Linked DNA regions of Homo sapiens: region 2 is linked to region 1. Evidence: fine-mapped expression QTL. Tissue or cell type: whole blood. Region 1 holds a variant in brackets; the other region holds the start of a gene. All regions are shown on one strand. Distances are from middle to middle. Region 1 overlaps LSM14A (LSM14A mRNA processing body assembly factor). Region 2 holds the start of GARRE1 (granule associated Rac and RHOG effector 1).

What was found. PIP is the estimated chance that this variant, and not a neighbour inherited with it, causes the effect.
Region 2: GARRE1 starts here. The variant in region 1 is the best candidate, but not a certain one, in a credible set for the expression of GARRE1 in whole blood (TOPMed, PIP 0.62).

What each region holds. Positions count from the first base shown.
Region 1 is chr19:34,225,102-34,230,484 of GRCh38, reverse strand. It overlaps LSM14A (LSM14A mRNA processing body assembly factor), which reads right to left. Exons shown (of 10, transcript NM_015578.4): 10 at 1,197-3,120. The coding sequence ends at 3,097. Among named protein-coding and RNA genes, the nearest start is that of GARRE1, 27 kb to the left of the region's middle. RefSeq lists an enhancer at 5,146-5,383. The variant T/A (reference allele first, on the strand shown) is at 3,139.
Region 2 is chr19:34,251,653-34,257,035 of GRCh38, reverse strand. GARRE1 (granule associated Rac and RHOG effector 1) reads right to left here and starts at 2,482. Exons shown (of 14, transcript NM_014686.5): 1 at 2,422-2,482. RefSeq lists an enhancer at 1,664-2,185.

The sequences.
Region 1 (5,383 bases):
CTTTATTATTAATATTCCCAAGCGGACAATTTCCTAAGTAGTAAATTTTTTTTTTCAAGTTGGCAGGAAATAATTTCCCACTTACTGTCTTTCCATGTGGAGGGACTTTAGCCAGTGTTTCTCAGAGTAGAGGAGCACTACTGCACTTTGGGTTGGACAACTGATTGTGTGGCACAGCACAGGACATTTACCATCCGGGCCCTTACTTTTAAATACCAGTGGTGATCCCCAGTGATTGTGACAACCAAAACACATCCCCTCACATTCCTCAGTACTCACGCACCACTTAATGATGTTTTGGTCAACGATGGACTGGGTATACAATGGTGGTCCCAAAGATTATGATACCGTATTTTTACTATACTTTTTCTGTTTAGATATGTTTTAAATACAGAAATACCACTGTGTTATGACTGCCTACAGTATTCAGTACAGTAACATGCTGTACAGGTTTGTAGCGAGGAGCAACAGGCTACACCATATAGCTTAGGTGTGGAGTAGGCCATACCATCTTCATTTGTGTAGTACACTCTCTGATGTTCACACAATGATGACATTGCTTAACACATTTCTCAGAATGTGTCATGGCCGGGCCTGGTGGCTCATGTCTGTAATCTAGCACTTTGGGAGGCCAAGATGGGAGGATCATTTGAGCCCAGGAGTTAGAGACCAGCCTGGGCAACGAAGTGAGACCTCATTGCTATTTAAAAATAAGAACATGTCGCTATTATTAAGCAACAGATGACTGTGTTCCTAGGATGTCAGGTAACCCCACCGAGAGCCACTGTGCTGCACTGCTGTTCCCGACCTCTTGCCCTACCATCACATGAAGCCCAGCTTTTGGAGCGAACTGTTTTAATAGACAGATTCTGCATCTTCTTCATGCGTCTGCCCACAGGGAGTGTGTTCTGGCTGCTGTTTCCAGCCTGGCCTGTGCCTGGGTGGCTCAATCTCCTCATGTCACGGATCTGATCTCAGAAGTATTTTATTTACACACAGGAGGGGAAGGAAGGGGCTTTTAGCTTTCCCTAAACATCTGCAACAATAACTCAATCTTAGAAATAAAGTAACTGATTTATAGTTATTACAGGGAATACAAACATTATAATTCCGCTCTTCCATTTAAAAGATTCCTTTCATTATGTTCCTACTGAAACAGAATGTTACTATTTAAAGAGAAAGAACTTTGACGAGCATTTTTTATTGAACAGTTTTATTCTGTTTTAGAATAAAAACTTTGCTTTAATATTGTAAGGGGTACTGCAGGTATGCCATGCTGCCAGTTATTGCTGGGGCACAAAACGCCCCAGTCAGTGATTCGGAGGGCTGGGAAAACGCATAAACTCATAATTTCAGAGCAAGTAGAACTAGTATTTACAGTTTTCTTTCTTGAAATTGGCCCGGGACATCTCCAACAGTCTACACATGTATTGCCATGGTACTTGCTCTGATGCTCTGAATGCCTCGGAACTGTGTTCAATATCATGATTTGTGGGTCCTCTAAAAGGTTTTGTTGTTAACATGCAAGCAAACAGCACTGAACAATATTGTCTAAACTATGGCTGCCAAGTACTGGATCTTCATAATGAAACCAAATTACAAAACACTGCCTTGTAGAGCTATACAAAAGATATAAAATGAAAATAAAAAATGTCAACCAGCCTTAAATATTCCAATTCTCCTACAGTGCAGTTTCTATATCTTTATCACTACTGAATGTTTTAAGGAGAAAGTTAAGAAAACAATCAAAATATTAGATAAAAATATTTAAATCTTTGGATCCTTTTATTCCATGGCCTTCATAAAAACACAAAAGTGGCCAGATTTTTCCCACTAGAGCTTAAAATATCAAAAAGATTCACTAGTAATTTATAATTAGCAATGAACTCTATACTGAGTCATCTGTGGGTCATCATAGGCCCAAGGACCAGTGTTGCCGTGTGTTACAGGCTACCAAAATAATTTCTAGCACTCTGAATCCTCTTGAAATATGATGGAATGAGTCAAGGTATCATGACTAAATTCCAGGCATAATAGGAAAAACAGGTTCATTGATGCCTAGTTTTAAAGTCCTACAAAAGGGGGGAAGATTACTTATTTGAAAATACAGCTAAGTACATTCTCATCTGTGATTATTTACATTTGTATACTGAAAATATCGATTATCTGGACAGATCCTGTGATATGCCATTTGCTACAAAATGAAGTTCTTACAATGAGCATGAATAATTAATCCTTTTTAGATAATGAAATAATGTATCAAATCTTCATTTATGTTCCAAACATTAAAAAACAAAATCAAAAATGTTAAGCCTGGAAAACTAAGAAAAAAAGACCCACCCATAAGGCTGCTGCTCAGCACATCAACTTCTGCAAGGACACAGTATGTTTGCTGACTTTAAAATGTTTATTCTTTAAAAAATTAGTTGCTTTTTATACAGCTATACAAAGTTCTTAATGTTTCTTTGGCAATGGAATATAATGGAATTTTACAACTATATAAAAAAGTTACCTTTGCCTAAGAAACAGTATTTACTGTGTGTACATAGTTGACTGACAAAATTCTCTACCATCCAGCACCCTAATTAATTGACGAAATAAGCTACCTCATATTACAGGATTCCCCAAAAGAAAGGAGGAAAAAGACACACACATACACACACACACACACACACACACACACACACACACACAACCTTCTGTGGCTCAAAACACAGTATCACGGCCCTATCTGCAGGCAACTTGCAATTGCCAAATACAATTTAGTGATAAAAAAAAAAAACCTTTCAGTGATGAAAAAATACTTGTTAAGTCCCACTGAAGTACTGCTTTAGTTTAACTATACATAAGAAATTACTTAACCTTCTGCTATTCCAAATATATTTAATGCTCATGTTTTAAGATGAGCCTTCCACCCCCAAAAGTAACTGCATTTTATCTTTGAAATTAAGCGGAAAAACAAACAAAAAACAAAAACCCAGTGCTGGTGACAAATGTACAGCGAATTCACTTCTTCATTCTTTGCAAAGACTGAAATCAATGTTCAGGACCATGAAGAGCTAGAAATTCACCTATTTTCAGAGACTTGTTTGTAGACTATGCAGCAACTTTGTTGTCTTTCTAAAAAAGAAAAAAAAA[T/A]TTAGCTCATGTTCCAAATTATTGGTGTATTATTTTCTTTTTACTTTGCTCAAGTTTATTTTAAATTATCTTTAAATATACTCCCCCACTTTTACTTTCATAGAAAAACCTGTCTCACTCATTTCCACGAAACTCCTTCTATAACTTCCATACTCAGTAGTACCTCATTGTTGACTGCATCTTCCAGTCAGTAGAGGTTAATGCAGTGGTGAACCCCACCCCAAAATACAGGCATACTTCCTCATCTTTGGTTGTTCTCCCTAATAATTTTTTAAAAGCAGTGATAGGACTTAAACCCTCAACTCAATAGTCAAACTCATCAAATACAACTGTCAACATACTTTGAAACAAGTTTCATAAAATCCCCAAGTCTTTGATGTCTTTACTAAGCAATAAAATACCCAGTCAGTATAACATTTCTCTCCAAAATTTCATGCCAGGAGGAAGCAATGGTTTAAAAATCAATTTTACAAGGATAACTCTTAAATCTGAAATAAGCTCTGAAAAGTAGAAAGCTGACTGGGGAATTTTTAAAAAGTAACCAGTGAGGAAGCAATAAAAATCTCAAGATTTCCAGAGAGACTGACCCTAAACTAAAGGCCTGTACAAAGGGCTGGAGCCAAGGGCTTTTATTTTCCTCTAGACCAGCTGCTACCATATACCTGGTTTTTACTGCTGATTCTCACCCCAACTGTTAGAAACAGACATTTCCTAGGTGAGACTTAACTTCATCTGTGTATACAACACCAAAACATTTGCACCCCGTTATTAAACTGAAATACATATGGTATGGCATAAGTTGACAGCAATGAGCTACAAGATGAACCTGCTGTCCCCCACAAAGCCAACCTTCACACCTCCCAAAGTATTTGTTTTTTTTACCTTTCAGAAAGCAGTACGATCAATCCAGACCTTTTAGGGTCCAAAAGCTGTGGTTTTCTGAAAGGTAAAAAAAAAAAAAAAAAAAAAAAGAGAAAGAGATGGGGACAGGAGAGGGAGAAAGGAGAAAATGAAAGGGGGAGAGGAGAGAGAGCATTATGCTGAGTCATTCAGACACCTTGTTGTCTTTGAACCCCATCTGAGGAAACACAGATGTGATTTTTATCACCCACCATGGTGGCTTAACCTCCCTGACAGCAGCATATAAAACAGGAGCTGGTTACATTATTATTGCTAGTCCTGATTTCCATTCTCACCTCAAAAAAGAATGGGCGGTGGGAGGGGGAAAACACCATACAACCAAACTTACCATAAGGTTATATTTCTTTCTTTTCTTTTTTTTTTTTGAGACAGGCCTCGCTCTGTCACCCAGGCTGGAGTGCAGTGGTGCGATCATGGCTCACTGCAGCCTTGACCTCCCAGGTTCAACTGATCCTCCTGCCTTAGCCTCCTGAGTAGCTGGGACTACAGGCATGTGCCACCACTCCAGCTAATTTTTAAACTTTTTTATAGAGATAGGGACTCCTTATGTTGCCCATGCTGTCCTTGAATTCCTGGGCTTAAGCAATCCTGCCCTGGCCTCCCAAAATGCTGGTATTACATGTGTACACCATTGCACTGGCCTATATTTACAATATTACCCTTAAGGAAAATCAGGCCACAAGTCAAGAGAGTGAGTTTTGGATTTGTTAGCTTGTACCTCAATCATGACAATTAACTTCTTGGGGTCCTTAGTTTCCTTATCATCTAATGTGAGTGTGGTAGCGTAGAGATTCTAGTTTGGCTGATTCTTTTAAGGATTCTAAAACTTTATGATTTTATCTTTACCCATGTTTTCATTAAACAACCAAGCTCATTTATGCTTACCCCCAAACCACAATGACTCATGCTAATATAGCACAAAAAATAAAGCCAACTCATTTCATGAAGGCTGCAGAAATGTCATCCATGTCCATCTCTGGGAGGAAGTGTTAGATGTTTCAGATACAAGTTTAATCTTCAGTGGTAAATCTCCTTTATGTGACAGTGATCACTCACCATTTTCTACCTTTAAAGGTGCCAGGTGAAATGATTTTATGATTTAGGAGGTGTAGGGCTGCTGGGTTCGGGGCTCTAGTGGCAGATGAAAGGATTATTCAACTCTGGAATGAACAATCAAAGGCTAGCTACATTGACAGACCTTTGGTCTCACTGAAGGCTGGAGTGGCAAATTCCTAATCAACATGACAAGCAATTACTTCAAGCCCACTATGGCTCCATGTTGAGCTGAGTGTTGTCATGGAAAGAAAAGTAGAATACATATTCA
Region 2 (5,383 bases), 27 kb before region 1:
AAAAATAGAGGAAGATTAGAATCTCAAATGCCACACTGAAAAGTTGCCACAACAAACCTGAACTCTTCATATGGAGTTTGTTATCTTGTCAGCAAGAAAGCAAATGAAACGGCAATAAACTAAACTTTTTGCTTTAAAAAGAAAAAAAAAATCTCAAACATGAAATATTCCCTGTACTTGTATTGGAAAATGATTTCTTTTTAAAACAAAATATTGTGAAGATACTGTGAAAAGAAAATACTGTGATTTTTAAAGACACTTGAAAACATCTAAGCACACACAAAATGTAAATATGAACTTTGTAAGTAGCCCTTACAAACATACACTTAGAACTTTTAGTCTAAAATATGATAAAATGATAAAGCTTACATATTATTCAATAAATCTGGAACTGACTAGCCATTTACAAAATATTTCATATTTTAAACCAAGAATGAATTTTAGGTAGACTAAAGGCAAAAAAATAAAACCATGAAACGATGAGACGCAAACATGAATTTCTTTTTTTTTTTTTTTGAGATGGAGTCTCACTCTGTTGCCCAGGCTGGAGCGCAGTGGCACGACCTCGGCTCACTGCAACCTTCGCCTCCTGGGCTCAAGCGATTCTCCTGCCTCAGCCTCCCAAGTAGCTGGGACTACAGGAGCGCGCCACCATGCTTGGCTAATGTGTTTTTTTGTATTTTTTTAGTTGAATCCGGGTTTCACCACGTTGGCCAGGCTGGTCTAGAACTCCTGACCTCAAGTGATCCGCCCGCCTCGGCCTCCCAAAGTGCTGGGATTACAGGCATGAGCCATCGCGCCAGGCTGGAATTTTTTTTTATGACAAAGAGACAGAAAAATTGTCCAAATATGTCAAAGGAAAACAAATACTATGTATTCTTAAAAATTGAACGTTACGGCCGGACACGGTGGCTCACGCCTATAATCCCAGCACTTTGGAACGCCGAGCCAGGCGGATCACCTGAGGTCAGGAGTTCGAGACCAACCTGGTCAACTGGGCGAAACCCTGTCTCTACTAAAAATACAAAAATTAGCCGGGCGTGGTGGGTGCCTGTAATCTCAGCTACTCGGGAGACTAAAGCAGGAGAATCGCTCGAACCCGGGAGGCTAAGGTTGCAGTTAATCTAGATCCCGCCACTGCACTCCAGCCTGGGTGACAGAGGGAGACTGTCTCAAAAAAAAACAAATAAAGTTACCTTTGACCCCATTTGTAAATTTATTCTAAGATAACAATCAGACCAGGTGTAATATCTCACACTTGTAATCCCAACACTTTGGAAGGCGAAGGCGTGAGGGTCGCTTGAGGCCAGAAGTTTTGAGACCAGCCTGGGCAACAGTCTCTTATTAAAAAAAAAAAAAAAAGACCATATCAAACAAATCCTTCCGGCAGAATTGTTTATCTTGTGACAAATTGGAAACTATCTCAATGCTCATCGGTGGTTAAATCACATACTGTAAAGTCCATAAAAATAACAATACCTATCTGTATTTATTGATTATCACCAAAATGTTAGCAGTGGTTGTCACTGAATGGTAGACTGGCAGATGACTGTCATTTTCTACCTTAAGACTTTTTGTGTCGTCTTGAGTGTTTTGCCAGGAAAGGAGAATTAACTGCTTTTATAATGGGGATGAGGGACCAGAACAAGGTATTTTCAAACTGGAGGCCCCCAAAGCTGAGTCTCTGGAAAATTTCTAAAAAGTCTAAACAAAATTCTTATCATGCCAACCAGGCACGCTTCTTTCCTCGCACCGCGCGGCGCAGAAAGACACACCCCTGACTCTGCGCTCGTCCCTCGGGCTCGGGTCCTCCACGCTCAGCCCCGGCCCTCCCGGTCCCCGCGGACCCTCCCCTCGGGCCCAATGCGCCAGCTGGCTCCGCAGGGCCGGAAAAGCGCGTTCCTCGGCAGCCTGGCGCCGCCGGGAAGGTGCGCGCAGCCCGCCCGGCAGCCCCGGGATGGCGTGAGGGCCGCCTCCCCGGCTAGCCCCAGCGGACCCCTGCCGCCAGCAGGCCGCCCTCCCTCCGCGGGCTTCCGGGAGCGGGTCCTGGCGCCAGCGCGACCTCCCGGGCCCCGGCGAACCGAGGGAGCGTCCCCTTTCCCCGCCTGACGGGCGCCGACCCGCCCCTGCGGTGCCGCGGCCGCCGAGTCTCCGACGCGCCCCCAGGTCCCGGGTTCGCGCCAGGAGGCCCCTCCGGGCTTCCGTCGGCCGGCCAGCGCCCGCAAAGCCCGGCGTCCTCCACAGCGGGCGGGCAAGGGGCGGGAGCCCACGGCCCCGCGCCCTGCGGCCCCGAGCGGAGCGGCGCCCCGCGGGCCCGTCTCGCCGTCTGCCCTGGCTGCGGCCCGCGGCCCCGCTGCCCACCGCCCACCGCCCGACCCCGCCCGCCAGCCCCCGCCTGCGCCCGCCGCGCCCGCTCCTCACCTGCGACGCGCCCCGGCCCCCAGCGCACCGCCTTGGACCGGCTGTGTACACCGGAAGTTACGTCTCCGGTCCGGCCCCGCCCCCGCCTCGGGCGGACGCGGGGAGGTTGCGGATCCCGCGCCTAGAGCGGACTCTCCTCTCGCATTAGAGGGGAGGGGGCGCCCCGGAGCCTCCTCTCCTGGGACCCTGGGCCCCCAAGCGGGACGGCCGGGGCGGAGGTTGAGGACTGGCGGCCAGAGCCGGAGGTCCACCCAGATCCCCCACCATGGCTTGGCCCCCGGGCGGGAGGGGTCGGGCTGCGTCCTCCTGGATTTATTACTGAAATTGACTGAAATCGATTACTGGCGTATGGAGTGTTTCCTAGATGCCAGGCCCCGACGGGCACTGCAGGAACGGGTAGTGCTCTCTCCCTCATAAGTTTATTCCTTAGTGGTAAATACACAATACCATTGTCACATATCCGGGTGATAATATAGTACCAATGGTGACAAGTGGTAGGAGGGGAAAGAGTAAGAGGGAGGGAGAGAGTACCCTGACCTAGTAAAGGAGAGTGATCCGGAATTCCCCCAGGGAAAGAGCAGGAGCTGAGGTCCTAAGGGGTAGAAGGGAGAAAAAAAAAAAAAAAAACGAGAAGGGAGGAGAACACATTACGCAGAAGCAGCAGCAAGGGTCTTCCAGTTCTGTGGGTTTTGTTTGTTTGAGACGGAGTCTTGCTCTATCGCCCAGGCTGGAGTGCAGTGACGTGATCTTGGCTCGCTGCAACCTCCACCTCCCGGGTTCAAGTGATTCTCCTGCCTCAGCCTCCCGGATAGCTGCGATTACAAGCGTGCGCCACCACGCCCGGCTAATTTTTGTGTTATTAGTAGAGACGGGATTTCCCCATGTTGGCCACGCTGGTCTCAAACTCCTGACCTCAGGTGTTCCGCCCACCTCGGCCTCCCAAAGTGCTTGAGCCACGGAGCATGGCCCAGTTTTGTGTTCCAATAATAAATCAGAGTGGTGAGAAGTTAGGTCTTACTTGACAGTGTTGCAAAACTAATGAGTTTTAAGCAAGAGGTGATTTGTCCATACTTGAGAGTGTAAAGGGGTTACTCTAGATGCAGTGTGGAGAAGGAAGGACTACGGAGGGGAGGCAAGAGTGGATATAAATGTGTACACCCATGTTCATATTAGTCAGAAGGTGGAAGCAACCCAATGTCCATCCACGGGTGAATGGGTTCACAAAATGTGGTATAAACATAACAATAGAATATTACTCAGCGTTGAAGGAGGCCGGGCGCCGTGGCTTACGCCTGTAATCCCAGCACTTTGGGAGGCCAAGGCGCGTGGATCACCTGAGGTCAGGAGTTCGAGACCAGCCTGACCAACATGATGAAACCCCGTCTCTACTAAAAATACAAAATCAGCCAGGCGTGGTGGCGCATGCCTATAATCCCAGCTACGATGCAAATAGATGAGCTTTGAAGATATTATGCCAAAAGAAACCAGTCACAAAGACAAATATCCTATGATTCCACTTACATAAGGTACCTAGAGTAGTCAAAAACATAGAGACGGGCCAGGCATGGTGGCTCATGCCTGTAATCCCAGCACTATGGGAGGCTGAGGCAGGAGGATCACCTGAGGTCAGGAGCTCCAGACCAGCCTGGCCAACATGGTGAAATCCCATCTGTACTAAAAATACAAAAAGTTAGCCAGGCGTGGTGGTGGAGGCCTATAATCCCAGCTACTTGGAAGGTCGAAGCAGGAGAACAACTTGAACCTGGGAGGCAGAGGTTGCAGTGAGCTGAGATTACGCCACTGTATTCCAGCCTTGGCGATGAAGCGAGAATCTATCTCAAAAAAAAAAAAAAAAGAGGCCGGGTGCAGTGGTTCACGCCTGTAATCCCAACACTTTGGGAGGCCGAGGTGGGCGGATCATGAGGTCAGGAGATCGAGACCATCCTGGCTAACATGGTGAAATCCCATCTGTACTAAAAATACAAAAAGTTAGCCAGGCGTGGTGGTGGAGGCCTATAATCCCAGCTACTTGGAAGGCCGAAGCAGGAGAACAACTTGAACCTGGGAGGCAGAGGTTGCAGTGAGCTGAGATTACGCCACTGTATTCCAGCCTTGGCGATGAAGCGAGAATCTATCTCAAAAAAAAAAAAAAAAGAGGCCGGGTGCAGTGGTTCACGCCTGTAATCCCAACACTTTGGGAGGCCGAGGTGGGCGGATCATGAGGTCAGGAGATCGAGACCATCCTGGCTAACATGGTGAAACCCCGTCTCTACTAAAAATACAACAAAAAATTAGCCGGGCGTGGTGGTGGACGCCTGTATTCCCAGCTACTCTGGAGGCTGAGGCAGGAGAACTGTGTGAACCCGGGAGGCAGAGCTTGCAGTGAGCCGAGATTGCGCCACTGCACTCCAGCCTGGGTGACAGAGCGAGACTCCATCTCAAAAAAAAAAAAAAAAAAGAAAGAAATGTAGAAGTTCTAATATTTTCTCCCAGTATCCCAATGGATTGCCTTCCCATACTATGGGGTACATGAACCTCCCTTTGAAAACCATTCATGGACTATGGTAGTGGCAATGGGGATGGAAAAAAAAAAGAAAGTCAAATTTGAGAAAGATTTTGGAATAAAATTGATGTAAAATCAGTGGTGAAATGGATATGGAGGGTGAGGAAGAGGTAGGAATCATGAATGTCTCCTGGGTCTCTGGGATGAGCCATTGTAGTGCTGGCACTCATTGTTTTGGGAAGCCCCGGAAGAGGACCATATTTGGGAGGGTGGAGGATGGGAAGAATGGCCCGAGTTCCAGTGTGAACATGGCATCAAAGAAGAGGCACCAATAAGGCACTTGGGGATGAGGATCTGGAGCTTAGAAGAGAGGTATGTGCTGGAGATGTCAGTGTAGATTGAGGGGATACCTTTCTTGGTGGTTGAATTTTTTTTTTGGACGGAATCTCACTCTGTCAC